7 linked regions of the Homo sapiens genome follow. The protein of the gene in region 1 purifies or fractionates together with the protein of each later gene. This does not show direct contact. Each region holds a gene or a part of one and is shown in the gene's direction. Other genes may lie near its edges.

Region 1 (3,628 bases):
TTCCAGCCTGCTCCTTTTACTCTAGGGGCCTCTGTCAGCAAGACCATGGGGACTTCAAGAGCCTGTGGTCAGGAAATCAGGTCCAGCCTTCCCTGTAGCCAGACAGTTTATGAGCCCAGAGCCTCCTGCCACACACATGCACACATATCTAGCATTCTTTCCAGACAGCATCCTCCCCGCCTTCCACCTTGGTAGATGCAAGGTCTATCTCTCCCATCAGGGCTGCCAAAGCTGGGCTTTGTTTTTCCCAGCAGAATGATGCCATTCTCACAAACCAATGCTCTATATTGCTTGAAGTCTGCATCTAAATATTGATTTCACGTTTTAAAGAAATTCTCTTAAATTACAATTGTGCCCAATGCAGGGTGGCTCTGGGGGGCAAGTAGGTGGTACAGGGGATTGGAAACATGCTCCGCGCCTCCAGAGAAAAGTTGCTCCCGAGGTCCATGCCCCTGGAACGTGTTCCTATCACTCTGGCTGGTTGGGCTGGTCCTTAGACTGGGTGCTTATGATTAAAGGGTCTTGGTTAGCCCACTTTCCCTCTCCATGTGGAGATGGAAGGTAGAGAAGGATACAGTGTCTATCCTCAAGTTGCTACGGTTCAGTGAGAGAGGCAGACATCTGAACAGGCAGGTAGGATTCAGTGTGCTCAGTGCACTGGGGATTTGGAGAGAGATGGGCTTGCTCTCTCTGTGCACCCAGGAGGGCCACGCACTTAAAACTGTGTTTGTGGATCAGAGAAGGCTTTATAGCACAGGGGGCATTCAGATGAGTCTTAGAGGAAGAGAAGAAACATGGCAAGCAGATTACATCTGAGCCGTTTGAATTGTGTTTTTCTTTCTTCCCATGTTTATTTTCTAAGATCTACCTGAACTTAGAGACTCAAGATATTTTTTTAGGAAACCTCCTACCCATGTCTGAGGTAGCAAGTGCAGCCTCACGACAGATACCAGGCAATCCAGAGCCACAAAACGTGATTCCTCCAGGCTCTGCCTGGCCTGACCCTGTCCTGTCAGCTGGGTTTACATACCAGTCCCATTCTTCCTTTTCAATACCTACCCCCAAATCTTCTCCTAACCACCATCTGTTTTTTTTTTTTAAAGCATTTTTTGCTTTAAAAGCATCCTGACCCCAATTTCTTTGAGCTCACGGGCCTTTTGCTGAAGGTCTCTCAGGGTGTAGTGGTGTGGCTCTCTGGACTTAACGTCACTCTCAGAGGTCAGAACCTTGGAGATCAGAACTGATTCTCACCAGGTGTGAGAGGTGTGGTAGCAGATTGCAATGCTCTGCACCTCTTCCTTGCAAGTGAGCAACTTCAGGCTCTCTGGGCAGAGGCTGGCCCACTGTAGTTTGCAGACATGCTCTCCAGATGGTTTTACTAAGTCCCCTCTCCCTGATAGGGAATCCTGCTGGACCAGCGCAGCCCTGGTGTGGAGAGGTTAAAAGACTTGCACAGGATCACCAAGTCATGCTGTAGAGCCAGGATTCCTAGACCCAGGGCTCTGCACTCTCAAGGCTGGCCCCATGTGCTCAAGGGGATCTAATGTTTGGGCTCCAAACTAACCATCTCGGAGCTGGGCTCCTCATTTACTGCCAAACCCTCAGCTTATGTAGCTAGAAAGGGCCCTGGAGTGAGAAAGCCTGGATTTTCAAATTGATGCTCCCCTACTGACTAGCTGTGCCACTCTGGGCAAATGCTCTTCCTTGAGCCTGTTTCCACACCTGTAAAGTGGGGATGATGATCCTATCTCACTGCTTTTGTGAGGATTACAGGAAAGCACCTGTCCTGGCTCTGTACCTGGCACGTAGTAGGTGCTCAGTTCATGCTGGTTTCCTTCCTGCCTTTAGTAGGGACCTGCTCTGTGCTCACACCTCGGCTGCATGCACCCTGCTGTGACGGAGGCTAGTGTGGAAGAGGTCCTGTCCTCAGGGAATTAACTGTCTTATTGGGAGACAACAACTGTCCTCCTTGGAACACCCAAGAAACCATGCAAAGCAGTGGACAACACAGAACACGCCCTCCTCCTCGCTGCCTGCAGCTCCAATCTGATTCTGCTTGGGAATGGGCGGAGCACGTGGGCTGCTTAACTGCTGTATAGGACAAGCCCCTTACCCCTCTCTGGGCCCATGAATTCCTGGCTTGGTTTATGTTCTGATTTGACACACTGATTTTAATCTTCGAATCATGACACTGAGTGCAGAGGAGGTGGCATTCCGACAGCAGGACATACATGTTGGTGTGAAGACTGGGACGACACTGGGTAGAATCTAGTTTTTAATTATTATTAATATAAAGGATCAAATTAATTTAAATATGATTCTGAAGTCTACAGAACTTTTAGTTCTGTGCTGTCTATGTGGACACTTTGGTAAAATGCAAATTATGATATGGACGTTATCATTGGTCTGGTGAGATGTTTCATATTTGTGACAGTTAATTTAAAAATTATGAGTTAATGCTGCCTGTGTCTATGGGGTTCTGTCTTCTTTGATAGCCATCTATTCATCTGGATCATGGGACCCTCTCTAATCCTTCCACCAATCAAATAAGCTATTGCTATTGGTTTGGAGTTGAGATATCAGTCTCGGAAACTTCTGAAAAATGCTAATAATTACCCAAGGATTATGTCAAATTTTAAAATAAATGTGTGTGTGTTTCTTTAAGCTGCTTCTCTCTTCTTATTTGCTAAATGAACAACTGCTGATTGCCAACTTTTATCTCCAAAGAGGACACAACTGAGATCCTGAACCCCCCAGTCCTTACCCACTGGCTCCTCTAGCCTTAGACTTACTCCTCAGTACTCCAGGAAAAGAAATGTGAACTTTACTGGAAGGATCACCTCTTTGAAATATTCACTGGTTTACTGATTTTTTTATTTTTATTTTTTGTTCTTGCCTGGATTCACATAACTAACCTGTTGCATCAAAGAAGAGATGGAGTCGGGCAGAAAGCAGAACATAAGGAAGATCCTTCCCTCGGTTTCCAAAACTCTAAAATCCTTAAATGAATGATGTCTTAAAAGGATTTAAAATGTTTGGACACAAATCTTGAGAAGGAGCATGAGTTAGGGGAGAGAGGATAATTCCTTTCTCCTGTGAACTGCCCACCCCCTTGTTACAGGTTGAATTGTGTCCCCCCAAGATTTGGATGTCTGAAGTCCTAACCCCCAGTACCTCAGATTATGACCTTATTTGGAAATAGGGTCATTGCAGATGTAATTAGTGACGATGATGAGGTCATATTGGAATAGGTTGGGCCCCTACTCCAATATGACTTGTGTCCTTTTGAAATGTGGAAATTTGGAGACAGGCATGCACACAGGGAGAATACCATGAAGGCTGAGCCCACAGAGATACCAAGCACCTGCAACCTCCACTCCCACCCGACTAGTAGGGTTCTCACTGACAAAGCCCGACTTTCAGTGTCTTAGATACTGTTCTTAGAAAGTGCTTCATGGCCTGGCAGTGTGCTGAACCCATACCAGTGCCTGGCCTCTAGAGCCATGAGCAAGATGGGGAGAAAGGACACACAGGACTCAGAGACTGCCACCTCCTTTCTAGTCCCAGGTCCTTGTCCTCTGGATGTCCTTGGTTTCCACTTCCTTCATGACCCCCGGCGCAGCCCTCT
Region 2 (4,857 bases), on another chromosome or scaffold:
TCTGATCAGCAGTGGAAATCACATTAGAATTTGACTCAAGAGAACTGTGTCTCATCTCTGGATCTCCAATTACTGGCTCTGGGACCTTATACAAATTACTTAACTTTTCTGAGTCTTCATTTTCTTATCTATAGAAATGGAGGATACCAGTTTATTCTTTATAGAGTTTTGAGGACTAGATTAGTTTTGAGGATTAGATGAGATATTACAAATGAAGTGCTGGCCCAGTGGTTGGTATGTATTATAAGTATAAACATTCTTATGAACCTGAATTCTGTAGGAAATTGCTCTCAGAAAGCTGTTATCTCCAAGAGATTGACCCAAAGATGGTATAGAAAATAAAATGCAATGGCCACAAGATTGAGTGTTGACTGTCCTCTAAGTATTTGCAATTGAGAAGGGTTTTTTCCTGGCCAAGCACGGTGGCTCACGCCTGTAATCCCAGCACTTTGGGAGGCCAAGGTGGGCAGATCATGAGGTCAAGAGTTCAAGACCAGAATGGCCAACATGGTGAAAACCCATCTCTACTAGGACTACAAAAATTAGCTGGGTGTGGTGGCACGTGCCTGTAATCCCAGCTACTTGGGAGGCTGAGACAAGAGAATCACTTAAACCTGGGAGGCAGAGGTTGCAGTGAGCCGAGATCACACCACTGCACTTTAGCCTGGGCGGCAGAACAAGACTCTGTCTTGGAAAAAAAAAAAGAAGGGTTTTTTTCCCTTAAAAACCTAAACCATCAGTGATCTCCATTGCTGAAATTAGTGGGTGCCAGTTGCATGAAATTCCAGGATGTTTATCTAACCTAGGGTCCTCCCTCCTCTGAGGGGAAGAAGTAGATGCCAGGAGAGGTTTAAACCATGAAGTGGCTCGCACACTGGGTGTAGCTGGAATGTACCTCAAGCAGGCACGTCAGTCCACTTCTTTGGCTGCATTTTTGAAAGGTGTGTCAAAGTTTAGCATTATTCCTGGGGATGGTCTACTCCTGAAGAGCAGGCCAGGAAAATTCCCAGTAAGTGACTAAATGAATAAATGGAAAAATGTCGCAGTTCCCTCTCCTCAGAGCCTCGCACAAAAGGTAGCCATTACATAGGCCACTGTCAAACAGTCCTCTGAGAGATTCCCACACTCTTCCTCTTCCCTCTAGACTACCCATCTGCCCCAATCCCCCCCTTGAGCAGCCTATTCTGTTTTTTCTCCCACTACAGCAGCCAGCCCCACCGCCTGGTGTAGAGCTTGAAGATGGAAAGGGAAGATAGGATGGGCAGAAACTGCCCTGCAATAGCTACATCATCCCCGAAACGCATACCTAAGAAAACCACTAAGGTCACCACACCCTGGAGGTGACATTCGCATGATTTATGCCTCTCTTGGGCTTTAGATTTTATTCCTTTACTTTTCTATAACTCTGTCATGACCAGTTTAAAGGCCCCAATGTCATGTCCTCGCATTAACAACCAAGGCTACAATGCAAGCCCTGCCATGTGCGCTTCTTTACAAAAGGTCAAAGTAAAAAGGAAATCTATACCAAAGAGCCTCTAGATACTATTTCCAGCTTCGGGGAAGTCCATAGTAGGTACTTCCACGGGTAGAGAACATTATCTTAGACTGGGATAAGGGTTGGTATTCGCAGTCCCCTTCCTACGTTCTGCCCATTGTAAAGACCAGGGTCAGCGTTGAGCCTCGCCCTTCTTGCTAGAACTACAACTCCCAGGATGCCCCGCGGCACGGGAGTGCGCACGCGCGTCGGAGGCGAAGGAGGAACCCACCGCACCTACAGGGCGGTCGAGTGAGGGAGCTGCTGGCGGGTGGGTCTGGCAACTCTTTGGGAGGCCGACGCGGGCGGACCGGCGGGTGCTGGGAACCGAGCCTCGGCTTGCGGCCGGCAGTTTCCGTGGGTCTGTGAAGAGGTCGGCGGCCCCTGCGGGCGCCAGTCAGGTAAGCCCAGCCCGGTGCTTTCCAGGAAGTCCGTCTGCGGGCGCGGGTAGGGAGTCGCACCGGCCATGGTGGCTGAGGAGGGAGAGGTTGCTGCCCGCCGGCCGCCCGACTCCAGGCTCCTTCCCGACGGGTCCGTCTCGGGGAGCAGGGGTGCGCGGGGGCTGCTTCTGCGCGAACGGCCCGGGCGGGGGACGTGGGGCGCGCTGGGCGTCGCCCGCCGGTCTAGGCGCGCGAACCTGGCGTTCCCAGTGAATCACCCGCGGCCCGGGCGCCCGGGTTCGGGACCGGCCCCCTCCCCTCCCGCTGAGCCGCGGCCGAGCTGGCTCCCTGCACCCTACCCAGCGTCGCCGGGACGCGATCACACCGAGATGGCACCGAGCCTCCTTCAAAGGCTTCGGCTTGTTGAAAGTGGGGCGGCGGAGTGGGGGAGCCAAAACTTAGGGCACACCCTTTTTGTGATTGAAATGTGGCTGCCCTTGCATTCACCGGTTTGATCTGTCTGCTCTTAGAATTAAGTTCCTAGCTCCCAGGCAGCACAGCTGGATCCGGCTGGGAAGTTTGTGTGTTAGTTTGTTTTGAGGACGTGACTGTGTCGTTATATTTTTGCTTGCGGGGGATGGTGTGTTTCCTCCGCAAGCCTGCATTCTGATTACAAACAGAAATGGGAAACAGCCACAGTTTCTTTTTTTCTTTTTAATGTTTAGTTAAGAATCGCATTTCCAACTTGCCCTTGGCCTCTGTTAAAACCAAAAGTCATCTGGCAATGAACACTGCAGTAAAACTTACCCCAGGAGGCCATACTTCAACAGGAAATAAGCCTGTGGAGATTTAAGTTAGTTATGTGCAGCCTCCCTTGGTTTGTAACATTTTCATGCAGCTCATGTCTCCTCTCCTTTTCTGAGAAACCTTCAGATTAATTTTTTTGGCAGATTAAATTGATTAATTGGCCCGTCAAAAATATATTAGGCTTGGAAAAATAGCTTTGCCAAGTCTCATTTACTCTTGCTAGTTTCTTCTTCCTAGGCACCTTTTCACCTTTAAGAGTCAGCAATCATAATAGTTACAGTCCCCTTTCTTACACATTCCTACGAAAGGAACAAAACGAATTAAAATGTCCCAATATATTTTAATTCTTTGAGCTTTCTTTGCTTTTGCAACTCTCAGAAATTGTAGTTTGCTGATCTTTAAAATTAGGTTGTTGGACCAGATGACCCCCAAGATTATTCTGCCCCTAAATATCTCTCGTTTTTAAAAGTTCATTTATTTTGCTCATTCAGGAAACACTGGCGATATGCATTCCAAGTCCTATGATAGACATGAGAAAGAGCAAACATGAGTTCTTGAGAATGCTGTAGACCTACTGCTCAATTTTATTTAATCATATTTTTTATGATTAATTCCTAAATTTTGTGGTATATCCAATATGCCAACCTACATTGTAATTAATAACTTCATCTGAAATTAAATAGGTACAGGTCAAATCCCATTCAAAGATTTTTCGTGTCTTAATTACTGGCCCATTGAAACAAAACAGGTTTGGTACAACAGAAAGGCCCTGAATGGTGGAGGGCAGTCTTTTCAAACACTTTAGCATGCATAATTCATTCAGGATATTCTAGGTTTGAAGTAGAGTCCAAAGTCTGTATGTCTGATGGGTGATGCTGTCAGAGACCATACTTTGAATGTCAAGTGTGGGGAGGTAATTTTAGAGGTATTTTCAGGTGTTTTTAATAGCAATTTAAATACTGGTACTGATAACTGATATTAGATACATAATTGATGGCTTTTTCAACTCTCAGTTTTTTAAAATACTGTAGTCCTATGAACTCTAACAAGAACAATTGTCATCATAAGTTTTTCTCCTTCTTTCCTTTTCCTTTCTCTTTGCTAGTTTTTCTTTTTTCTCTTTGCTTTTTTTTTCTCTCCTCCTCTTCCTTCCTTAATTGTTTTCATTCACATTAATTTGGCAATTCATGAATTCAAGTATGTGTCTTGCCCCATTCTGTATTCTGTACAAAGCAATGTTTCAGGCTCCTGGTGAATATGTATAAGACATGAGGCCAGGGCCGGGCCTGGTGGCTCACACCTGTAATCCCAGCACTTTGGGAGGCCAAGGTAGGAGGATTGCTTGAACCCAGGTGTTTGAAATCAGCCTGGGCAACATAGCAAGACCCTGTCTCTACAAAATAAAATAGATTAGCCAGGTGTAGTGGTGATGCCTGTAGTCCTAGCTACTCAGGAGGCTGAGGCAGGAGGATTGCTTGAGCCCAGGAGTTTGAGGTTACAGTGAGAGACAATGATTGTGCCACTGCACTCCAGCCTGCGTGACAGAGTAAGACCCTGTCTCTCTAAAAAAAGAAAAAAAATTATATATATATATATATATATATATATATGAATGACATGGTTCCTGTCTAGGACCTTATTCTCTTTGGGATTAGGCAGATATACTTATGTATAGTCCACAGCACTTGTAAGAGCCACCTGTAGGGAATAAAAACGTGGTAGATATTCAGGAGAGATATTTTCCAGTTGCAGGAGTGGGGAACAACTAAAGTCAATATTTTTTTCCATTCACTGGTCATCTCTTTCCCCAGGCTATACTGTCTATACTGTTTGAATGTATGTGACATATCTACATAGAGTATAGTGGAATTCTGTAAATTTATTTTATTTGGAACCTGAGATGAGCCAGATACATGAACATAATTAGAACCGGATGTGGTGGCACGCTTCTGTGGTACCAGCCACTTGGGAGACTGAGGCAGGAGTACCACTTGAGCCCAAAAGTTCCAGGACAGCCTGGGCAACATAGCAAGACCCTGTCTCAAAAACTAAAACAAAAGAGAAAATCAATTATATCTGAGCAATATCACAGGGAGGATGAGAGGCTTTGCGGATAAAAGTATACCTGGATAGAGG
Region 3 (4,364 bases), on another chromosome or scaffold:
TTCTGAAGAGAAATATGTCATCTCTCCTTTTTTGCCCCCGCTAACAAAAGTCGAATTGGGAGCTTTTGTGTGTTTTCTTTTTGTTTTTTGGTTGGTTTTGTTTAACCCTTTACCTTGTGTCCCCAAACTTGGGACAGTATACTTTCTTTTGCCCCTTACTACAGGTGAACCTTCCTAAAAGATTTTTTCTTTTTATTCTCCGTAAAACATTTAAAGCATTCTTTAATGAAATAGTTTTTTAAGCAGGTTGTGTAATGTTTTCCATGTAACAGATTGGTTTATATATAGTTTGGCTGCTTCTTGCTAATAATGAAGGGTTTTCTCTCCTGATATTGTCTGAGAATCTATCATAGATGAGGTTAGATTGCCTTTGGAAAGATGCTTCTAGTTAATTCCTGTCCTATATAATTAGTTGAATTCATCTGTGAAGGATGTGAATTTTTCTTTGATCTTTTTATTTCATGAGCAGCTTTGTGAGTACATTCTCAGGTCTAAAGTCCTCACCCTCTTCTCCTATTCCCCCAGGGCCCCCAGTGAAACACACACATACATTAAACAGTGCAGTTTGTTATTTCAGGCCTTTTTCTTTGCATTTATGAAAGTAGGTCGGCATGCTGCCTCACACCTGTAATTCCAGCACTTTGGGAGGCCAAGGTGCGTGGATTACTTGAGCCCAGGAGCTCGAGACCAGCCTGGCCAACATGATGAAACCACGTCTCTGCTAAAAATACAAAAATTAGCCAGGCATGGTGGCACGTGCCTTTAATCCCGGCTACCCGGGAGGCTGAGGCATGGGAATCACTTGAACCCAGGAGGTAGAGGTTGCAGTGAGCTGAGATTACACCACTGCACTCCAGCCTGGGTAACAGAGTGACTGTTTCATTTAAAAAAAAAAAAAAAAAAGTAAATGTGTACACAAATATTTCTTTGTAGCTTTTGCCAACTTTACCTTTCTCCTTTCTTTCTGAGGGTGAGGTAGGAAATCACATGCAGAGTGAGTGTGGAAAGAGAATAAATAACCACGTGTTCCAAGGATCTTAAAAATTTGCACCAAGATGTGTGTCAAAACCAACAACATTGTACGAGGTGCAATCTCATGTTTTCTGCCAGCTGACCAATATTTCTTGCTCTGTTTCCTCAGATCAATGTAACCACTGTGCGGGAATATCTGCCAGAAGGAGACTTTTCAATAATGACAGAGATGCTCAAAAAATTTTTGAGTTTTATGAATCTCACTGTAAGTAGCTTTTATTACAGCTTATATGATTTTAAATTTATAATACATTGACAGTAGACATAAAAATACTATGGCCATAGTAAGTGGGAGCAAAAAGGGATTTTCTTTTAATTTTAATAATCGTGTTCTATTTCTTCAAGGTAATCATTGCATGTTATGGCAAATAACTTTATCAAACCCACAATTTAATCTCGGTGTACTTTGATTTGTAGTGTTCAGTTTAGTAAATCTAGAGGTAAACTTTTATTTATACTTCTTAAAATCTGTTAAATATTAACTGTTACTTCCTTTCCCCTTCACCCTGCTTTCAGTGTGCTGTTGGAACAACTGGCCAGAAATCTATCTCTAGAGTGATTGAATATTTGGAACATTGCTAGCTGCTTTACCTTTGCTTCAGGTGCTCGGTAATGCTGGAGCTATCCTTAGACAAAGAAAAGTCAAGTCATGAAAGAAGTCCTTGAAGATATACCAAGAACATTCATCAGTATCATTCGTGTTTGGATTTTTAAGGCCACCTGATTTCTTCGTCATGCATTCGGCATTTGCTAAATGACAGTTACTACATCAATCTGCAACTATCAAAAATGAGGGGAAAAGGTTCAGGCTGTTAACAATTCCATGCAGTATTTAAATACATTTACTTTGGCAGAGTTTATACCCTCCCCTTGTTTTCTTGCTTTATTCTGGGCAAGTTTGAAGGGGAAAATTTGTGCTGCTGTTAGTGCAACTGCTGTGTATGTTGAGCCACTGTTGTCATGCCAGCCAGGTGCAAAGGCAGCTTAGCTACTGAGGTAGCGAATGTTCTGAGGACATTCTAGACAACAGCTTAGTTCCTTTTTCAGGCTCATTTGCTTTTGCTTTTTTGTTGAATGATTCCAATCGTAAATAAAGCTTTTAATAATTTTGTGAATTTTTTGGTTGTTGTTCCCTGAACTACTGTCTATATTTAAAATTAGATGGAATCCAAAGATACACGGGATTAATAGTATATTTTTTTATTCTTGATTAGGTTTGGGTTATTGAACTATTTTTTACTTTTGAGACCACAACCATATTCAATATCATACCATAATGTGTCATAGCTATAGGCACAAGAAAAACAACAGTTTGAGAGAATATTATATAAGATGATGTGCCCTGTTAAAAGGAGGAGGCAAAATAGTCAAACCCAGGGTAGTTTACACTTAATGCTAGGGAGGCTCTTAAAACATTATTAGATTTTGAGGAAAGACTCTCTAGATATATTTTCTAATGTTCAGTACAATAAATATAAGGAAGCTAAAACACCAATGTGGAATTCCTGTTTCCAGATAACATGTATATTCTTCTATAGAGTGACAGGATCAATTGCATAAGCGCAAAGCCTTAAATTGCTGGTTTAGAGAAGACCCTTTTTTCATTCAGATTCTTTGTTCGTAGAGCAGTTATTTGAAAAACAGTTATGGAACACAAAACATTTTATAGATTTAATATCATAACATTGCAAATTTTTCTTGTATTATTCACACCACTGGTTATACTTTTTTTTTTCCTTTTTTATTGATTGGGCCTGAATACAGGCTTTCTAGAGATCTTTTTCATTAATACTTTTAAATACCTTTCAGGTAGTTACATCATGTTTCTTCATTGGATTTGTAAAACTTGAAGCCATAAAAATATTAGTTTGGTGTGTATTGGGGAAAATAGCTAAAAGTCTAATTTTTACCCATTTAGACTTTGTTATTTCCTTGTATAAAGTGACAAATCGGGGCTCTTGTATCAGTGCCAGCTGTAATGTTTTTAAATGCAGTGGCTGCCTTCTATTGTCTTCCTATTTTTGATAATGCAGATTGTTGGGAAATCTGTAAGGAAGTAACTGATTCCAGGCAAATTGTTTTCTTCCTTCTACCCACCCCAACCCCTACCCATCACCTTTTAAGAACATAGTACGCCAGTGTAACGTGGGAACCATTGAGATTGTATTTGCCCTGAGTATTAAAGCTAGCTTAGCAAAATACTTTTAAAAACATATTGGTAAATGATACCCGTAAAATTAAATTAGTTATATTTTATTTTAAAATGCAAAATACATTGATATTTATTAATCATTGGATTTAGGGAAAGGGACAGATTTTTGGTGAACCTGACTTGTGGCAGATGGTAAGGAATATTATAAAACATTTGGATGAGAACAATCAGGGCGAACTGCATTTTTCTGTTACACTGGTAATCATTTGAAAATTGATTTACCTCAGTGTTTAACAGTTTTTTGTTTTGTTTTGTTTTTTAAATAATAACTAATTGTCGAGCACTGATAGAGATGCAGATTTTGGTGGGGGGAGGTGGTGGGGGAGATAATCACTTCACCAACTGCAGTGCATTTGTGTGTTTTTAACCCTCAGAGAACTCTGCATTTTAGGGTACTTGAGGCTGACTTAACTAAAAGTTTTAAAGTAACCTTTTTTCCATTGTAAATATTTCTGTAAATACTACCAATTGGAAATTAGAACAGTAGAGTACTTTTCTGAATCCAATCCTATTTTTATTTTATACAGTATTTCTCAGCTGTGATCTTTGGAGCAAAAGCCAACGGCAGGAAAAAATAGTTTGTACCAGTTTCATGAAGTATGTCTTTGGGTTTTTGTAAATAATTTTAACTCAAATAAAATTGCTACTTTCAATACACATGTTGTCTTTAACATAAGTCTATTGGAGGACAGAAGTGTCACAAACTTTATATATAGCCGACTCTAATGGGAAATACACTATCACTTAACACATTTAACCAGTTTTTGTTAAATATTTTATTATTTCTCCATGTTTTTAATAATACTCATCTGAATATAATGTGAACTCAACAACTCAGGCCAATTAGGGACTGGATTTTCAGTTAGGCCCTTGGCATACTTAACTGTTTTGATTTAGGTTATTTTTTGCTCCTATGAGTATGATCCAAGACATCTTTGCTTCTGAGGTTTTACACTGCTTTTTAGTTTTTCAGTTTTCTTCTTAATTGTCAGCCCTTAGGCATCCTGCATTTACAAGTAGATTCCTCAACTTCTCCTTACTGCTTTTAGCCACAAAACTAGATTGAAGGATCTCTCCTGGGAGTTTCCATTACTCTCCCCACTTAAACATGAGTAAGAGT
Region 4 (4,364 bases), on another chromosome or scaffold:
CTGGGCTCAAGCAATCCACCCGCCTCGGCCTCCCAAAGTGCTGGGGTTACAGGTGTGAGCCACCACGCCTGGCCCAAAGACCCCTTTTCCAAGTAAGGTAACATTTACAGGCTCCAGGGATTAGGATCTGGTATCTTTGCGGACCATTATTGTTTGTTTGTTTAATAGAGACAGAGTCTCACTCTTGTTGCCCAGGCTGGAGTGTGGTAGCACAATCATAACTCACTGTAATCTCGAACTCCTGGATTCAAACAATCCTCTTGTCCCAGCCTCCTGGGTAACTGGTACCACAGGCAATCACCACCACACCCAGCTAATTTTTAAATATTTTCAGAGGAGTCTCACTGTGTTTTCCAGGCTGGTCTCAAACTCCTGGCCTCAAGTGATCCTCCCGCCTCAGCCTCCCAAAGTGCTAGGATTATAGGTGTGCACCAACGTGCCCAGCTGGGGGCTACTATTTAGCCCCTTGCAGGTTCCCTCACACCCTCCCCTTGCAGGTTCCCTCACACCCTCCCTCCCTCCCCACAGGTCTTCCTGCAGTCATCACCACCTGCCTGGCCCTGGGTACCCGTCGGATGGCAAAGAAGAATGCCATTGTAAGAAGCTTGCCCTCCGTAGAGACCCTGGGCTGCACCTCTGTCATCTGTTCCGACAAGACAGGCACCCTCACCACCAACCAGATGTCTGTCTGCAAGGTCAGGAGCAGTGTGGGCAGCGCGCTCAGTCAGAAGGCTGCCTGTGGGGGTTAAATGGGCCCTCCAAAGATAGAGGTCTCCCTTCATCACTGCTGGCTTCTCATCTGGGCCTGCAAAATGCTCAAAGGGCAGTAGAACGCCATCCTGTCTGCCATGAACGGGATCAGAGAGGACCCTTGTGCCCCAGCCAGACAGCTCACTCTGACCACCATCCACGCACCAGGCACTGCCACACATCGTCTCTCATCCCTCACAATAGCCCATTCAGAGGATGGTCTCATTATCTTCATTTTTTTAATTAAAAAAAATTATTATTATTTTGAGACAGAGTCTCACTCTGTCGCCCAGGCTGGAGTGCAGTGGTGTGATCTTGGCTCACTGCAACCTCTGCCTCCCGGGTTCAAGCGATTCATCTGCCTCAGCCTCCCTAGTAGCTGGGACTACAGGTGCCTGCCACCACGCCTGGCTAATTTTTTTGCATTTGTAATAGAGACAGGGTTCGCCATGTTGGCCAGGCTGGTCTTGAACTCCTGGCCTCAAGTGATGTGCCCCTGTTCGCTTCCCAAAGTGCTGGGATGATAGGTGTGAGCCACGGCACCCAGCCTAACTTCCTTTTTTAGAGGAGGAAAAAGCCTCTGAGAGATTAAATGACTTCCCCCAAGATGCACAGTTAATAAATAACAGAGTTGAGCTTCAAACCCGAGTCTGTGTGGCCCCAGAGCTTCTGCCTGTGAAGTAGATGGCTCTCCAGAATGGTCACTCATGACAGGGCCCGGCCAGACTGCCAACACTGACCGTGAACAGCATTTCCTAAAGCAGGGCTCTTAATCTTTTCTGTGCCTCACACCCCTTTGCAGTTGAGCTCTTGTCAGGATAATATTTCAAATGTATATTAATAAAATAAAACAGGCCAGGTGCAATGGCTAACGCCTGTAATCCCAACACTTTGGGAGGCCAAGATAGGCAGATCACGAGGTCAGGAGTTCGAGATGAGCCTGGCCAACATGGTGAAACCCCATCTCTACTAAAAATACAAAAATTAGCCGGGCATGGTGGTGCGTGCCAGTAATCCCAGCTACTGGGGAGGCTGAGGCAGGAAAATTGCTTCAACCCGGGAGGCAGAGGTTGCAGTGAGCCGAGATCGCGCCACTGCACTCCAGTGTGGGCGACGGAGTAAGACTGTCTTAAATAATAAAATGAAATGAAATGAAATAAAATAAAATAAGCCAGGGGTGGTGGCTCACGTCTGTAATCTCTTCAGGAGGCCAAGGTGGAAGGATCACTTGAGCCCAGGAATTCGAGACCAGCCTAAGCAACATAGTGAGAGTCCGTCTCTACCAAAAAAAAAAAAAAAAAAAAAAAATTAGCCTGATGTGGTGGTGCACACTTGTAGTCCCAGCTACTCAGGTGGCTGAGGCAGGAGAATCACTTGAACCCAGAGATTGCTTGAGCCAGGAAGTCAAAGCTACAGTGAGCTGTGATCACACCACTGCACTCCAGCCTGCATGACAGAGCGAGACCCTGTCTCACGCACAAAAAAATAAAATAAAATAGGGCTAGGTACGGTGGCTCACGCCTGTAATCCTAGCACTTTGGGAGGCTGAGGCGGAAGGATCACTTGAGCCCAGGAGTTTTAGACTAGCCTGGGCAACACAGTGAGACCCCACCTTTTAAAAGATAAAATAGAAAGTAAAAAATAAATAAACAAAACAGGATTCTGGGTTTTTTTGTTTGTTTTTTTTTGTTTTTTGAGATGGAGTCTCACTCTGTTACCCAGGCTGGAGTGCAGTGGCCCAGTCTCGGCTCACTACAACCTTCACCTCCCAGGTTCAAGTGATTCTCCTTCCTCAGCCTCCTGAGTAGCTGGGACTACAGGCACGCACCATCACACCCAGCTAATTTTTGTATTTTTAGTACAGATGGGGTTTCGCCATGTTGACCAGGCTGGTCTCTTAACTCCTGACCTCAAGTGATCTGCCCACCTCGGCCTCCCAAAGTACTGGGATTACAGGAGTGAGCCACTGCGCCCGGCCAGGATTCTGTTTTAAAAATACATAGGAAGCTGGGCACGGTGGCTCATGCCTGTAATCTCAGCACTTTGGGAGACCGAGGTGGGTGGATCACCTGAGGTCAGGATTTCGAGAATAGCTTGTCCAACATGGAGAAACCCCGTCTCTACTAAAAATACAAAAATTAGTTGGGCGTGTTGGCAGATGCCTGTAGTCCTAGCTACTAAGGAGGCTGAGGCAGGAGAATCACTTGAACCCAGGAGGTGGAGGTTGCAGTGAGCTGAGATTGCGCCATTGCACCCCAGCCTAGGCGACAAAAGCAAAACTCCATCTCGAAAAAAAATATAAAAGACCTGACGCAGTGGCTCACGACTGTAATCCCAGCACTTTGGGAGGCCGAGGTGAGCAGATCACCTGAGGTCAGGAGTTCGAGACCAGCCTGACCAACATGGAGAAACCCTGTCTCTACTAAAATACAAAATTAGCTGGGCGTGGTGGCACATGCCTGTAGTCCCAGCTACTTGGGAGGCTGAGGCAGGAGAATTGCTTGAACCTGGAAGGCAGAGGCGGTGAGCTGAGATCGTGCCATTGCACTCCAGCCTGGGCGACAGAGCGAGACTCCGTCTCAAAAAAAAAAAAAAAAAAGTAGCCAGATGCGGTGGCTCACACCTGTAATCCTAGCACTTTGGGAGGCCAAGGCGGACGGATTACCTGAGGTCAGCTTGGCCAACATGGTGAAAACCAGTCTCTACTAAAAATACAAAAAATTAGCCAGGCGTTGTGGTGGGCACCTGTAATCCCAGCTACTTGGGAGGCTGAGGCAGGAGAATCGCTTGAACCCAGGAGGCGGAGGTTGCGGTGAGATTGCACCACTGCACTCCAGCCTGGGCGACAGAGTGAGACTTTGTCTCAAAAAATAATAATAATAAAATAAAACAAAAATAAAAAAGTAAAAAAAAAATACATAGGAAAGATACATAGGGTTACAGAGGAAACCAATGATTGTGAAATACAGTTCTATCAAAATTTTTAAAAACAACTTTGTAATTTGGCAACACACATGCTTCTTTATTAAGGCATTAATTAGGGAGTTCTCGCAGTGGGTCTAAGCACTATCATAATGTTGAAGCAGTGGTGAGCATAAATTATGCTATTTTGAGAGATCTGCAACAGTGGTAATGTGATAGGAGGAAAGTATCTGTGATTAAATTGGTGACAGTCACAGGTTTTGCTAATACTAATGTGGTCTGTTGACAACATGCATAACTGGAAGGAAATGTCAAACGTCAGCTTGAGAACAAGAAAAGCTGTCGTTTTTTTCTTGGCTATCTCAGTTCTTGGGCTCCTTGCAGGGTCTTCCACTGACCTCAGGCCAAGAACCCCTGCCCTTCACAGAGTTTTGTGGAAGACTACACCCATGAACTAGAAATTGCTGTTCTGAGAAGCAAGGGCTGTGTGGTCAGATCAGGGTGAGAAAGGCTGTAACCTTGGCTCCTGGGCGAGACCCACAACATCTGCTGCTATTTGAAAGCCTTAGAGGAGGCTGACTGTGTAAAGAAGACGGATTCTGCTTTGCCCCAGAGGTTCCCAAGTTTTTTTTCTGACCACAGAACTTTTTTGTCTTGGAACCCATCTTAACCATCTCTCTTCTCGGGAATGA
Region 5 (4,364 bases), on another chromosome or scaffold:
ACTGCAGCCTTGACCACCCAGACCCAAGCAATCCTCAGACACTTGAGTAGCTGGGACCACAGGTATGCACCACCACACCTGGCTACTTTTGTTTTATTTTATTTTTTGAGACGGACCGCAGTCTGTTGCCCAGGATGGAGTACAGTGGCGTGAGATCAGCTCACTGTAACCCCCGCCTTCCGGGTTCTATTGATTCTTCTGCCTCTGCCTCCCAAGTAGCTGGGATTACAGGCACATGCCACCACGCCTAATTTTTGTATTTTTAGTAGAGACGGGGTTTCACCATGTTGGCCAGGCTGGTCTTGAACACCTGACCTCCGGTGATCCGTCTGCCTTGGCCTCCCAAAGTGCTGGGATTATAGGCGTGAGCCACCGAACCCAGCCTGTGGTTAATTTTAAAAGTTTTTTTAGCAATGGGGTCTCTCTGTGTTGCCCAGGCTGGTCTCAAACTTATGAACCAAGTCATCCTGCCTCAGCCTCCAAAAGTGCTGGGATTACAGGCATGAGCCACCGTGCCTGACCTCAGATGTTAGTATGCCTTATAAGGGCCTCATATGAGATTTATTTTATTTATTCCTTTTCTTTCTTTTGTCTTTTTTTTTTTTTTTTGAGACATGGTCTTACTCTGTCACCTAGGCTGGAGTAGTGCAGTGGCTCTATCATGGCTCACTGCAGCCTCAACCTCCTGGGCCCAAGCAATTCTCCTACCTCAGCCTACAGAGTAGCTGGAACTACAGACATGTGCCACCATGCCTAGCTAATATTTTTAGTTTTTGTAGAGATGGGGGGTCTCTTTATGTTGCCCAGGCTGGTTTTGAACTCCCGCGCTCCAGTGATCCTCCCGCCTGAGCCTCCCAAAGTTTTGGGATTACAGGCGTGAACCATGGTACCTATCTCTTTTTTTCTTTATTCGTATGAGATTTTAAACTGAAGTCTGTTTGCTTCTATCTTACAGATGAGAAATGCAGCTTATGACCATGATTGAATTATAAGTAGCAGAGCTGTGACTTCAAGCCATTCTGACTTGAAGCATAACATTTCTCCGACTTTAGTACAAGCCTTTCTAAAACCAAAGTTTCTGACTTACCACTTGACTATGTAGCACTTTAATAATTTTAATAACTTTTCATTGAACCCTCATAGGCACTCTATGAAATAAAATTTAGTATGAGCAGGAAGTAGAATTTGCAAAGTGACACAGCAAGTAAGTGATAAAACCAAAACTATAACACAGGATATCAGTATTTTTACTGTAAACTCTAGAGGAGTTTAGTTGAACAGGCAAGTCCCAGTATTTTTCATTTCTATTGCATTTCTTCATTTTGCTAACAATTTATTTGCAGTACTTCCTTTGATAGTCATACAGGGCTGTCAAAGCTTTTGGTGTACTTCATTTTCCATTCTGGAAACTGATGCTGAGGAAGATTGAGATTTGCCAGGAGGCTGATGTGTGCTGGAGTCTGGGCTGCATGGCACTATTTCCAGCGTCTAGGCTTTCTACGTAAAACAGGGGTCAAAATATCAGACACACAAAACCAAACTAAAGATCTGCCTCAGTAAGTACCAGCTGCATGCTACATGATGGCTGGTAGGCACTTTAACCCTAAGAAGATTTTCTAAACAACATTTTCTTTTTCAATCTTCTTGCCCAAGTTAGTACTTTCTTGTGTCCCCTCCCTCCCTCCCTTCCTCCCTTTCTTCCTCCCTCCCTTCCTCCCTCCCTCCCTCCCCCCTTCCTTCTTTCCTTTTGTGTGGGGATGTGTATACAGGTTTCCTTATTCATTTGTTTTTTCATAGAGTTGGGGTCTAGCTATGTTGCTCAGGCTGGAGTGCAGTGGCTATTCACAGGCATGATCGTGGTGTACTACTGTTTGAAAATCCTGGGCACAAGTGATCATTCTGCCTCAGCCTGCTGCAGAGCTGGAACTACAGGTGTGTGCCACTGCACCCAGGTGATTTTTTTTTTTTCAATTGAGGCAAAATTTATATAACATAAAATTATTTTAAAGTGGGGCTGGGTGAGGTGGCTCACTGAGGTCAGGAATTCAAGACCAGCCTGGCCAACATGGTGAAGCCCCGTCTCTACTAAAAAATATAAAAATTAGCCAGATGTGGTGGTGAGCACCTGTAATTCCAGCTACTTGGGAGGCTGAGGCAGGAGAATCACTTGAACCCGGGAGGCAGCGGTTGCAGTGAGCGGAGATCATGCCACTGCACTCTAGCCTGAGTGACAAGAGTAAAACTCTGTCTCCAAAAAAAAAAAGTTCAAGTGTACAAGTTCAGTGACATTTAATATATTCACAATATTGTGCAATCACCAATTCCGTCTAGTTCTAAAACATTTTCATTACCCTGAAAGAAAACTTTGTAACCATTAAGCAGTCACTCCCTATTCCCCCATGCCCTCCACCCCTGGCAATACCAATCTACTTTCTGTCTCTAGATTTACGTATTAGAGAGATTTCATGTAAATGGATCATGCAATATGTGACCTATTATGTGTGGCATCTGTCGTTTATTGTAATGTTTTTGAGATTTGTTCAAGTTGTAGCATGTATGAGTTTTTCATTTTAATCACTGAGTAATATTCCACTGTATGTATAGATATGTTTTGCCTGTCCATTCTTCCATTGACGGACATTTGAGTTATTTACACCTTTTGGTTATTATGAATAGTTCTGTTATGAATTTTCATATACTTGTATTTGAGTACCTGTTTTCCCTTCTTTTGGGTATATACCTAGAAGGAATTGTTGACTCATATGGTAATTCTATGTTTAACTTCTTGAGGAACTGCCAGACTGTTTTCCAAGGTTGCTGGGGAAGTTTTATATTCCCACCAGCAATACACAAGGGTTCTAGTTTTTCTCTTTTCTCATCAAACACTTGTTATTTTTTGTTTTTGTTAGATAACAGTCATCCTAATGGGTGTGAAGTGGCATCTCATCATGATTTTGATTTGGCCATGTTAATGTTATGGCTAATGTTAAGTGTCTTCATAAACTTATTGACTATTTATATATCTTCTTTGGAGAAATATCTTTTTAAGTTCTTTGTCCATTTTTGAATTGGGTTGTCTCGTTTTTTGGTTGTTGACTTAAAGGGAGTTCAAAGAGAGTTTTTTATATCATCCAGATGCTAGACTCTTACCAGATAAATGATTTAAAAGTATTTTCTCCCATTGTCTTTTCACTTTCTTGATAATTTGTACACTGTGTATTTCTTTTTTCTTTTTTTTTCCCCAAGACAGAGTCTGGCTCTGTCACCTAGGCTGGAGTGCAGTGGTCTGATCTCGGCTCACTGCAACCTCTGCCTCCTGGGTTCAAGTGATTCTCTTGCTTCAGCCTCCCAGGAAGCTGGGATTACAGGCGCGTGCCAACACACCTGGCTAATATTTGTATTTTTAGTGGAGATGGTTTCACCATGTTGGCCAGGCTGGTCTTGAACTCCTGACCTTAGGTGATCCACATTGGCCTCCCGGAGTGCTCGGATTACAGGCATGAGCCACCGTGCCCGGCCAGCACTGTATATTTCTTGTTGGATTTCTTGATGTATGTGTTTATTTCTTGAATTTGTATACCGGTTGTCTTTTCACTTTCTTGATAATGCCCTTTGATGCAGAAAAGTACATCAGCCCACTTCAGTGTCCCAAGTAGCTGGGACTACAGGTACACACCACCATGCCTGGCTCAAAAGTGTTATTATTTTTTTCTTTTGTTGCTTGTGCTTTTGGTGTCATAGCTGAGAATCCATTGACAAATCCAAGGTCATGAAGACTTATCTCTGTGTTCTAAGAATTTTATAGTTTTAGTTATTTATTTAGGTTGTTGATCCATTTTGAGGAATTTTTGTGTATTGTGTGAGGTAGGGGTCCAGTGTGATTCTTCTGCTGTGGATATCCAGTTGTACCAATACCATTTGTTGAAGACATGATTTTTCCCCCATCAAATGGTGTTGGCACTCTGGTTGAAAATCAGTTGACCACAGATACGAGTTTATTTCTGGATTCTCAGTTCTATTCTGTTGGTCTATATATCTGTCCTTATGCCAGTACTACACTGTTATGATAACCGTAGCTTTGGATTAATACTAAGTTTTGATATAAGAAGTGTGAGTCCTCCAACTTTGTTCTTCTTTTCAATGTTGTTTTAGTTCTTCCAGGTCCTTTGAAATTCTGTGTGAATTTGAGGATCAGCTTTTCTGTTTCTGCAAGAAAGGCCAAAGCATTGCAGCTCTTTTAGAATTTGTCTAGCAGGTTTTCTGGTTTTCACTAGAGTTCCCCGCAACCCCCAGCCACACGCACACACAAAGGACCATTGGAATTTTGATAGGGATTACATTGAACTTTTGAATTGCTTTGAGTA
Region 6 (3,477 bases), on another chromosome or scaffold:
ATCAAACGCTAGAGAAAAACTGAATCTACCCTTGGGCAGATGACTTGGGATTGGATTCTATACAGCAGTCTTGCTCAATCTTCCCAGTTTCCAGTTTTATTATACCAACAATTGGTTTTTACAAGCTAGAAGACAATGAATGTATAAGTTCTATGGAACAGTGAGATAAATCTAAGCTTCTTGTCTTTGTATTTAGAAACATTGATTCTATGGATGATCATTTGTATCATGTTGACCCTTTGACTTGTACTGAAGGTGATTTTAAATTTAAGTATGTAGTGTTTGAATTTCTTCCATCCATGTCGTTTTAATGAGATGTTTCCATGTCAGCTCCTTTACAGCCTTGGCTCCTGGCTTACAGATTTTTGAATAGTTGTTTGCTTGCCAGTTGTTTTACATCTTTCATTGGCCACCAAAATATTAGCCATTTGAGATGAGATGAGACTACTTGTTGTACCTTCATCTTTCATTTAATTTTCTGGCGTAAATTAACATTTTAATTTCATATATATCTGTAAAGAGTCTACCCAAAGGCTTCACGGAAATTTGCAAAATGAACTAATTCCCTTTTAAGCAGCAGGTGTGCCTGTTTTTGACTTTTCAGTAAATATGTTGTTTGTGCACATATCTACATGGTGGAGACCATATTCATTATTTCATCTTCCAAATAATGGGAAAAATATAAAAGTGAATCAGTGTGCTTTGGGAATTCAGTGAAATCATGTTAACTCATATAGAGGGGGCCTTAGTTTATCTCTTCTTTACTGAATTAATTAGTTTTGGAAATTCTTTTACCATTAAAAAAAATTAAGGACCATACAGAGAATGATTTAAGAAAAAACAAGTCACTTAAAAATCATCACCTATTTATAAACTGTATTAATTACACATAATGCTTATTGATTCAATGAGGTTTCTCTAAAGACTTCTGCTTAATAAATATGCTGACTTCATTTAAATTAGTTTAGACTATTGTAGGAATGGAAGGAAATGATTATATTTACTAGAATTAGTGAGATCAGAAAGCATATCAGAATGTTGATGATATCAAGGAGACAATCTACAGAGTTTTTGCCTCTGTGGATGGAAATAAGGGTGTTTTTTTTTGGTTTTTTTTTTACTTTAGTTTCCCATAATTTTTGGAAATTATGTGTGCATTTAGTTCTTTTAGTAACACTGATTTTAAAATTAAATTTCAAAAGTCAATCTCTAAGAGTAATTTATTTTTGTTTTACCAACCAGTGCCAAAAAGGAGAGGAGGGAATCCAAAAGCCAATCTTTTGAACCAATGTGTAAAAGATTATGTTTTTTCTTAAAGTTAGGGAGGCTCGGGCCCTGACACTGCCAGCCCCAGTGAGCATCCCTGGCTACCTCGGGATTATGTGCAAGCTGCTTTGTCCTACATTTCTTTCATCTGGTTCTTATTGGGAGTGCTTCTCTCTAATAAAAATTGATTTCCCACAAAATAGGCAAAGCTGAACAAAGATGAATGCTTTTGATAAGTTGGGTTTCACTTCAGTTGAAACAATGTGATAGAATATCCAGGTGTGGCATGATGGGGCAGGAGGAGGTGCCTAGAGGGAAAAGTTATTTTTGTTTCTTAGTGTTGTGTTGTGGGGATGGGACAGATAAGAATAAGATGTTTATTGCCCTAATCATGCTAAGAGACTATTATTCAATATGCTTTTCCCGCTTTTCTAAGAGGAATAAACTTAGACAAATTACATTATAAACAGTTCCCCTACTACTATCTCCCACTCTAGATAAAGCCAGTGGGTGGTATGGGTCCTTTTATTCCTTATAGTATTATGCCAAAGAATCAACTTATTTTCATTGAAGATTATAAATAAATGAAGCTTGTTATAGCCATAATGATTTGAGTCAGTATACCATTTTACCTATAAAATGCAAAATTCATCCTTGCAACCCCATTCACCAGGAGCCTTGAAGCATTTTGTTTACTCCAAAGGCCTTGTCAAGGAAGCATAATTTTTTGTTTTGCCTTCTTATTTAGTCAGTTTGGTCATATTTACTTAAAAAAACAAACTGAAAATCACACTCCTTTATATGTTGATATAACTGATTTTATAGAATCTGTCTGTTCTTTGTTTAACAGGTCTCTGTAAGCAAGCTTGCAAGTGTATTTTGTGTACATTTTATCTGAGGTGGAAATGAAAATTCTAAAGAGAAAATATTTTAAAAGATATTGTATTTATGTTGCTTGTGTTGTAGAATAAAGATTCAAATGCATTAAAAATCTGGTACATGAAACAATTGTGTTTACTGAATAAATATATATAAATATCCTGTGTTTACAGAATTCTGTCAAAAGAATTAGGCCCCTTTTCATGGCATTTCATAAGTCTAAATGTAAAGGCCCATTTTAAATCCTGTAACATGGAGATAGTCATTATTGACAATTTGGTATATGCCTAAAAAACAAATTTGTAGAAATAATATATCATTTCCTTGTTTAAAAAAAGGGCTTATTCTATGATATTATCTTTTACTCATAAGAACTTATATCAAATTCCTACTGTCAGTAGATATTGATGTAGATCATTCATTTAAAAAATTAAAGTATTACCTTTTGTTCATAAACAACCAAAAATCCAATTAATAAGAATATTAGTATTTAAAAGTAATATTAAAAAATACAGCCACTTTTAACTTCCTGATCTTACTAGATTATTGTTTTAAATACACATATATCAAAATATCACACTATACCCCATAAATATGTACAATTAATGTAATTAGTGATGTCAATTAAAAACAAAATTTTTTGCATGGTGGCTCATACCTGTAATCCAAGCACTTTGGGAGGCTGAGGCAGGCGGATCACAAGGTCAGGAGATCAAGACCAACCTGGCTAACATAGTGAAACCCCATCTCTACTAAAAAAAAATACAAAAAATTAGCCAGGCGTGGTGGCAGGCACCTGTAGTCCCAGCTACTCGGGAGGCTGAGGCAGGAGAATGGTGTGAACCTGGGAGGCGGAGCTTGCAGTGAGCCAAGATTGCGCCACTGCACTCCAGCCTGGGCGACAGAGCAAGACTCCATCAAAAAAAAAAAAAAAAAAAAAAAAAAATTATATATATATATATATATATATATATATATATATATATATATATATTTAAAAAGAAAACGTTTTAAAAAAAAGATTGTAAGTCTATAATATATCAGCCTAGGTATCACCCTGCCCAAATCATAGAAAACTGCCGTTTAGCCAAGCTTGGGGTAAAAGACATTCAAAATGCTATGGAAATTGAATTTTTGCTTATAAGCTTAAGTCATGATTCTATCATGCATACACACTAGTAGTCTCAGTTACACCACCAAGACTCAATCACTTCCATCATAAGGATGAAATAAAACTAAGATAGGCATCAACATACTTTGCATAAGAACATCACAAATACAGGGGCCAACCATGTTTATGGATGGAGACAGCTGAGAGTGAAGCCTCAGCTA
Region 7 (4,364 bases), on another chromosome or scaffold:
TGGCATCAGTGTTTGCATCTGTGAACTGAGGTTGTTTGGATGATTTCCAAGTCTAACTCAAGATTCTGTTTTTTCAGTCTACTAGGTGCACAGTGTTATACTAGGATTTGTAGAATACTATATAAAAGTTGTCTTACTATTATAACCTTCCAAATGCAGCAACATTCAGGGAATTTTCAAGACCTTGACTACAGGGGAAGGAAATCTATGGTGATTTTAAGAGACTGTGAACTAAGGGTTTGTTATATTGAATGTAGCTGAACTGCATTGCAGTCTATTAAGCCAAAGTCGATTTGATTGAAACATAACAACTTGCAATTAAGGTGAAAATGTTCAAGTCCATTGAGGTGGTAATGAAAATCTTGATTTGGGCAATGGTCATAGTCGGGAGTAAGCCTGCCATTGTGTGGTTAATTTGATATGTTACTGCTTTGTAACTTAAAATACCCATCAGTGAATGGATCAGTGCCAATTTTTAAGTATTTTAAGCAGAGAATATAACTGAATACATAAAGGAAAAGACTTAAGGCAGTTTTGTCTTGTTACATTTAGAATTAAACTAAAAATGATCAAACAGTAAGCGTCTTAAGATGATATTTTAATAGTGTGGGGAGGATGTTGAATGATATGAGCCAAGACTTGTTTTAAATAGATACTCTAAAAGATTTTTATCCACAGTGAAATGTGAGCCTTTTAGAAATTAGTATTTTAAAACCTATTTAAATATCCAAAGGAAAACATTATCTGTATAGAAAAATCTTAAAGCACATAAAACTTGTTTAAAACATGTAGCATTTAGAAGTAGCTAAGTATTGATGTTAGAGGCTTTTGGTTTAAAGCTGTAGAAGTTGAAATGAGCTTTGGCAAAAATGTCAGGTATTGAGGGGTTTGGGGGGCCTATCACAGTAGAAGGAAAGGCTGGTAATGGAACCATGTGAAGAGCTGGGTGCTTGAGTGTGTGGGTGTGTGAGTGCGTGGGACTTTTCTGTACCCTTTGGCTCAGTTCTCCTTCATAGCTGGCTGGTTCCTCCACAGAGCAGGGAATGAACGGTTCCTGTATTTCACATTTTGTCATTTCTGCTCCCCCAAAAGGGTTTCCTGTCTCTAATTCAGTTATAAAAATACCGTGGAAGGATTCCACTTGGGATTGGTCTGGCCTTGGTCATTTGTGGCCGTCCCTTGGACTAAGCAGTTATAAAAACATGGCAGCGCTTGCCTGTTGGCGTTGGGGAAAGAACAGTCCCCAGAGAGGGGAAAGGGCCTGCCAGGCAGTTTCAGGCAGGTCTCTGTCCGAGTAATAGAGCTGGATGGTTCTGGACATCCGTGGGTCTTTACCGTGGGAATCTGTGAGGGCCAGCCTGATGAGCACCATGTGCTGTGTTGTGTGTGGATTGGAGAATTCATGGTGTCCTTGGTGGAGCGTCAGTAGCTTTGATTATATTCTCCACAAGCTCTGGTTTTTGGAATAGACAAAGACCATATTGGATACATCATAATTTTTTTTTTTTTTTTTTTGGTTCATGGGTTTTTATTTGGGCACTGAAAGAAGATAAGGAAACTAAGTTTTAAAGTGATTTGAGTGACTGTGAAATGACTTTGACTGAATAGGACATAATAAGGCAATTACATTAAAATTAAAATTAGACATTAGATGAAATTATTGAGTGGAACCCAGCTACCATTCATTCAAGAACTAGTCTCCTCAAACTATTTTTTTGTTCTTTTTAATCTTCAGAGGAAAGAAACATACCAAGCAGACATACAGAAAGTTTATTAGGGAAGTCGTTTTATACTCCTTAAAACTTGGGATTATAACCAGAGAACAGAATACATTTTCCTCTCCATTTGTCAGATACTTTAGAGTGAACTCTAAGTATTTATACTTAGTACTTAGTGTTACTTAGTACTTACAGTTACTAAACTTCAGTACTCAGAATGATGCCCCATGTCAGGTCAGTGATTTCTATTTCCAGGGTATCCTGATCTGCTGTGTCTTTAGATAGGTTGCCGGCAAGAATTATAATAAACCACCAAAATCTGCCTTAAGTTGATTAGAAAATACAGGCAACCAGAGTAATTAATTCTGCCAGCATAGCCTTCGAAATACAAATTTTGGAATTGAAGGGAATTGGTGCAATTTGGCAAAAAAGGTTTGTGGTTAGACAGATGAGGTTCAAATGCTAACTTTGGAACTGATGGGCTCTTTGAGCAGGTGATTTAGTCACTTGAGCCTCAATTTTCACATTCTTAAAATGGAGATAATGATATGACTTCACAGGGTTGAGAGTTAAATGAGATACTGTGTTTAAGGCCTAGCACTGTAATTAGCACATCATAAGGATTCAGTAAATGATGCCTAAAAGTAATAAAGTTCAAATGCAGTTTGGATGGTGATATATTAAAAGAACCAGATCCCTGTTTCTCAAAATTTAAGGTGTTTATCAATCGGGGACTTTTAAAAAAAAAAAAAAAGTCTGCTAAATTAGGCTCTGCTGCTGGGTAGGTGGCTCATGCATGTAATCCTAGTCATGCATTGGGAGGCTGAGGCAGGAGGATTGCTTGAGGCCAAGATTTTGAGACCAGCCTGGGCAGCATAGCAAGACCCTGTCTCTACAAAAAATGTAAAAACATAGATGGGTATGGTGGCACACACCTGTAGCCTGAACTACTCAGGAGGCTGAGGTGGGAGGATCATCTGAGTCCAGGAGGTCCAGGCTGCAGGGAGCCATGGTTGTACAGTGTACTGTAGCTTGGGTGACAGATGGAGGCTCCCACTAAATGTGAAACAATAAAAATTAAAATGCAGTGTCTAATTCAGCAGATCTGTTGGGAGTGCTGCCTGAGACTGTGCATTTATCATACTCTCGGGTGGTACTGATGCTGCAGGTCCACAGGCTACATAGCAGTAGAAGGAAGAACTTTACCACTAAGGATTCCTCCCCCAGCCCCAACTGTATGTGATGAGCCCTTAGAAGAATGGTGGCCCCATGATAGATTAGAGAATTTGGGAGAAGAAATTGTAGGTTGGAAAGGGACACAAGCAATTTAGATTTAAGAATGTGGAATTGCAGGTGATGGTGGTGGGTGGATCCTGCAGTTACAGTACCATGTAGGATGCTGGAAAGGTGTGATTGGAGCTCGGGAGCCACTAGGGCTGGGATAGACCATTGAGACCTGCCCGTACAGAATCGGTAAGTCAGATCTCCACCGGAGGAGCAGGGACACTGGGGACACTTGGCTTTGAGGGAAGGACAGAGGAAGAAGAAACAGGAGGAGAAAACAGAGGTCGGCACAATTAGATGTTCCCAAGTGCTTGAAAGTCATGGCTGTGCTTGTGGTTGATTGCGGGTGGCTGTGAAAGCTTAAAGACTTAAGGAGTGAATGAGTGGAAGTAGAGGCAATTCCTCTTTTTTGGAAGGTAAGTAGAAGGAAGGTGAAAGATGCCATTTTGTTAGGAATCCCTGGGGAGTTTCCTTGAATCCGTCTCTTCGTTTCCATTCTCACTTCTGTCACTCCTAACCAGATTTGTTTCCCTCTTTCCTAGACTGATATTAAACCCCCCTAGCTTATTTCCCTGTGTCTGCCTTTATCCTCATTTCTTTTCTTTTTTGTACTAGGAACTCCTATGGCAGTCCAGTGAAGGCCATAGACTCCTCAGAATGAGGCTTTTAAAGGAATAAATGAAAATACAGAGGATATGTCCTAGCAAGTTCAAGGATCCTTTTAATTCTATCCATGGACCACTTGGGAGTTCATGGAACCCCATCAAGAACCCTTGCAAGAATAAGATGGGGATAGTGTGGGGTGAGAAAGTGGGGAGAGCACGCAGCAGCCAGGAAGAATTCTTGGGGGGGAACACGCATAGGCTGAATTGATTACCCGCCTGGGTCACAGTGCCTAGTACTTGGGATTCACAACGGTACCGTTAACCACTGAGCTGTGCTGCCTGGGCCAAGCTCAGGAATCATTCATTTCTTTGAGTTCTTTTATTTTCTTAGTCTTAAGAGCTGTTCTTCTTGGATGGACAGAGTATTAGCTGTTAACATGGGAGAAAACTACTTGAAAACCAGTTTTTCCCTTCATAGAAAGAAAATCATTGTTAATGTTCAGAGCATGTAGGGAGAGAACCAGTACATAATTTATTTAAGAAAAATGTTGTAGGGAGTTTTAAAACAGTAACTTACCTAAAGCTAAGCCTCACAATTCTAAATCTTTATAGTTTTTCAGCTACCTGGGCACAGTGATTAAGAGCTCTGGAGTCCTTGTTCGGTTGGCTATGTGACCTTGAACAAGTTATTTTGCCTCTCAGTTCCTTGATTATAAAAGGAGGTAATAATGGTACCTACTTTGGAAGTTTGTTATAT

The links.
Region 2: the proteins of ST6GAL1 (region 1) and TMOD3 fractionate together in Homo sapiens (co-fractionation; one large-scale study listed by BioGRID). This does not show direct contact.
Region 3: the proteins of ST6GAL1 (region 1) and WAPL purify together in Homo sapiens (affinity purification with mass spectrometry; 2 studies listed by BioGRID and IntAct, with this or other methods). This does not show direct contact.
Region 4: the proteins of ST6GAL1 (region 1) and ATP2A1 purify together in Homo sapiens (affinity purification with mass spectrometry; one large-scale study listed by BioGRID and IntAct). This does not show direct contact.
Region 5: the proteins of ST6GAL1 (region 1) and USP28 purify together in Homo sapiens (affinity purification with mass spectrometry; 2 studies listed by BioGRID and IntAct, with this or other methods). This does not show direct contact.
Region 6: the proteins of ST6GAL1 (region 1) and ARFGEF3 purify together in Homo sapiens (affinity purification with mass spectrometry; 2 studies listed by BioGRID and IntAct, with this or other methods). This does not show direct contact.
Region 7: the proteins of ST6GAL1 (region 1) and PIP4K2A purify together in Homo sapiens (affinity purification with mass spectrometry; 2 studies listed by BioGRID and IntAct, with this or other methods). This does not show direct contact.

What each region holds. Positions count from the first base shown.
Region 1 is NC_000003.12:187,075,890-187,079,517, forward strand, and holds the end of ST6GAL1 (beta-galactoside alpha-2,6-sialyltransferase 1), read left to right. Parts: 3' UTR 1-2,664; downstream 2,665-3,628. UniProt on the Homo sapiens protein: Transfers sialic acid from CMP-sialic acid to galactose-containing acceptor substrates. In B lymphocytes, generates neuraminidase-sensitive lymphocyte cell-surface differentiation antigens, such as CDw75, HB-6 and CD76.
Region 2 is NC_000015.10:51,827,902-51,832,758, forward strand, and holds the start of TMOD3 (tropomodulin-3), read left to right. Parts: upstream 1-1,751; 5' UTR 1,752-1,935; intron 1,936-4,857. UniProt on the Homo sapiens protein: Blocks the elongation and depolymerization of the actin filaments at the pointed end. The Tmod/TM complex contributes to the formation of the short actin protofilament, which in turn defines the geometry of the membrane skeleton.
Region 3 is NC_000010.11:86,434,793-86,439,156, reverse strand, and holds the end of WAPL (wings apart-like protein homolog), read left to right. Parts: intron 1-1,141; coding exon 1,142-1,237; intron 1,238-1,548; coding exon 1,549-1,614; 3' UTR 1,615-3,901; downstream 3,902-4,364. UniProt on the Homo sapiens protein: Regulator of sister chromatid cohesion in mitosis which negatively regulates cohesin association with chromatin. Involved in both sister chromatid cohesion during interphase and sister-chromatid resolution during early stages of mitosis.
Region 4 is NC_000016.10:28,888,259-28,892,622, forward strand, and holds part of ATP2A1 (sarcoplasmic/endoplasmic reticulum calcium ATPase 1), read left to right. Parts: intron 1-528; coding exon 529-695; intron 696-4,364. UniProt on the Homo sapiens protein: Key regulator of striated muscle performance by acting as the major Ca(2+) ATPase responsible for the reuptake of cytosolic Ca(2+) into the sarcoplasmic reticulum.
Region 5 is NC_000011.10:113,865,171-113,869,534, reverse strand, and holds part of USP28 (ubiquitin carboxyl-terminal hydrolase 28), read left to right. Parts: intron 1-4,221; exon of another isoform or gene 4,222-4,283; intron 4,284-4,364. UniProt on the Homo sapiens protein: Deubiquitinase involved in DNA damage response checkpoint and MYC proto-oncogene stability. Involved in DNA damage induced apoptosis by specifically deubiquitinating proteins of the DNA damage pathway such as CLSPN.
Region 6 is NC_000006.12:138,342,360-138,345,836, forward strand, and holds the end of ARFGEF3 (brefeldin A-inhibited guanine nucleotide-exchange protein 3), read left to right. Parts: 3' UTR 1-2,304; downstream 2,305-3,477. UniProt on the Homo sapiens protein: Participates in the regulation of systemic glucose homeostasis, where it negatively regulates insulin granule biogenesis in pancreatic islet beta cells. Also regulates glucagon granule production in pancreatic alpha cells.
Region 7 is NC_000010.11:22,707,215-22,711,578, reverse strand, and holds part of PIP4K2A (phosphatidylinositol 5-phosphate 4-kinase type-2 alpha), read left to right. Parts: intron 1-4,364. UniProt on the Homo sapiens protein: Catalyzes the phosphorylation of phosphatidylinositol 5-phosphate (PtdIns5P) on the fourth hydroxyl of the myo-inositol ring, to form phosphatidylinositol 4,5-bisphosphate (PtdIns(4,5)P2). Has both ATP- and GTP-dependent kinase activities.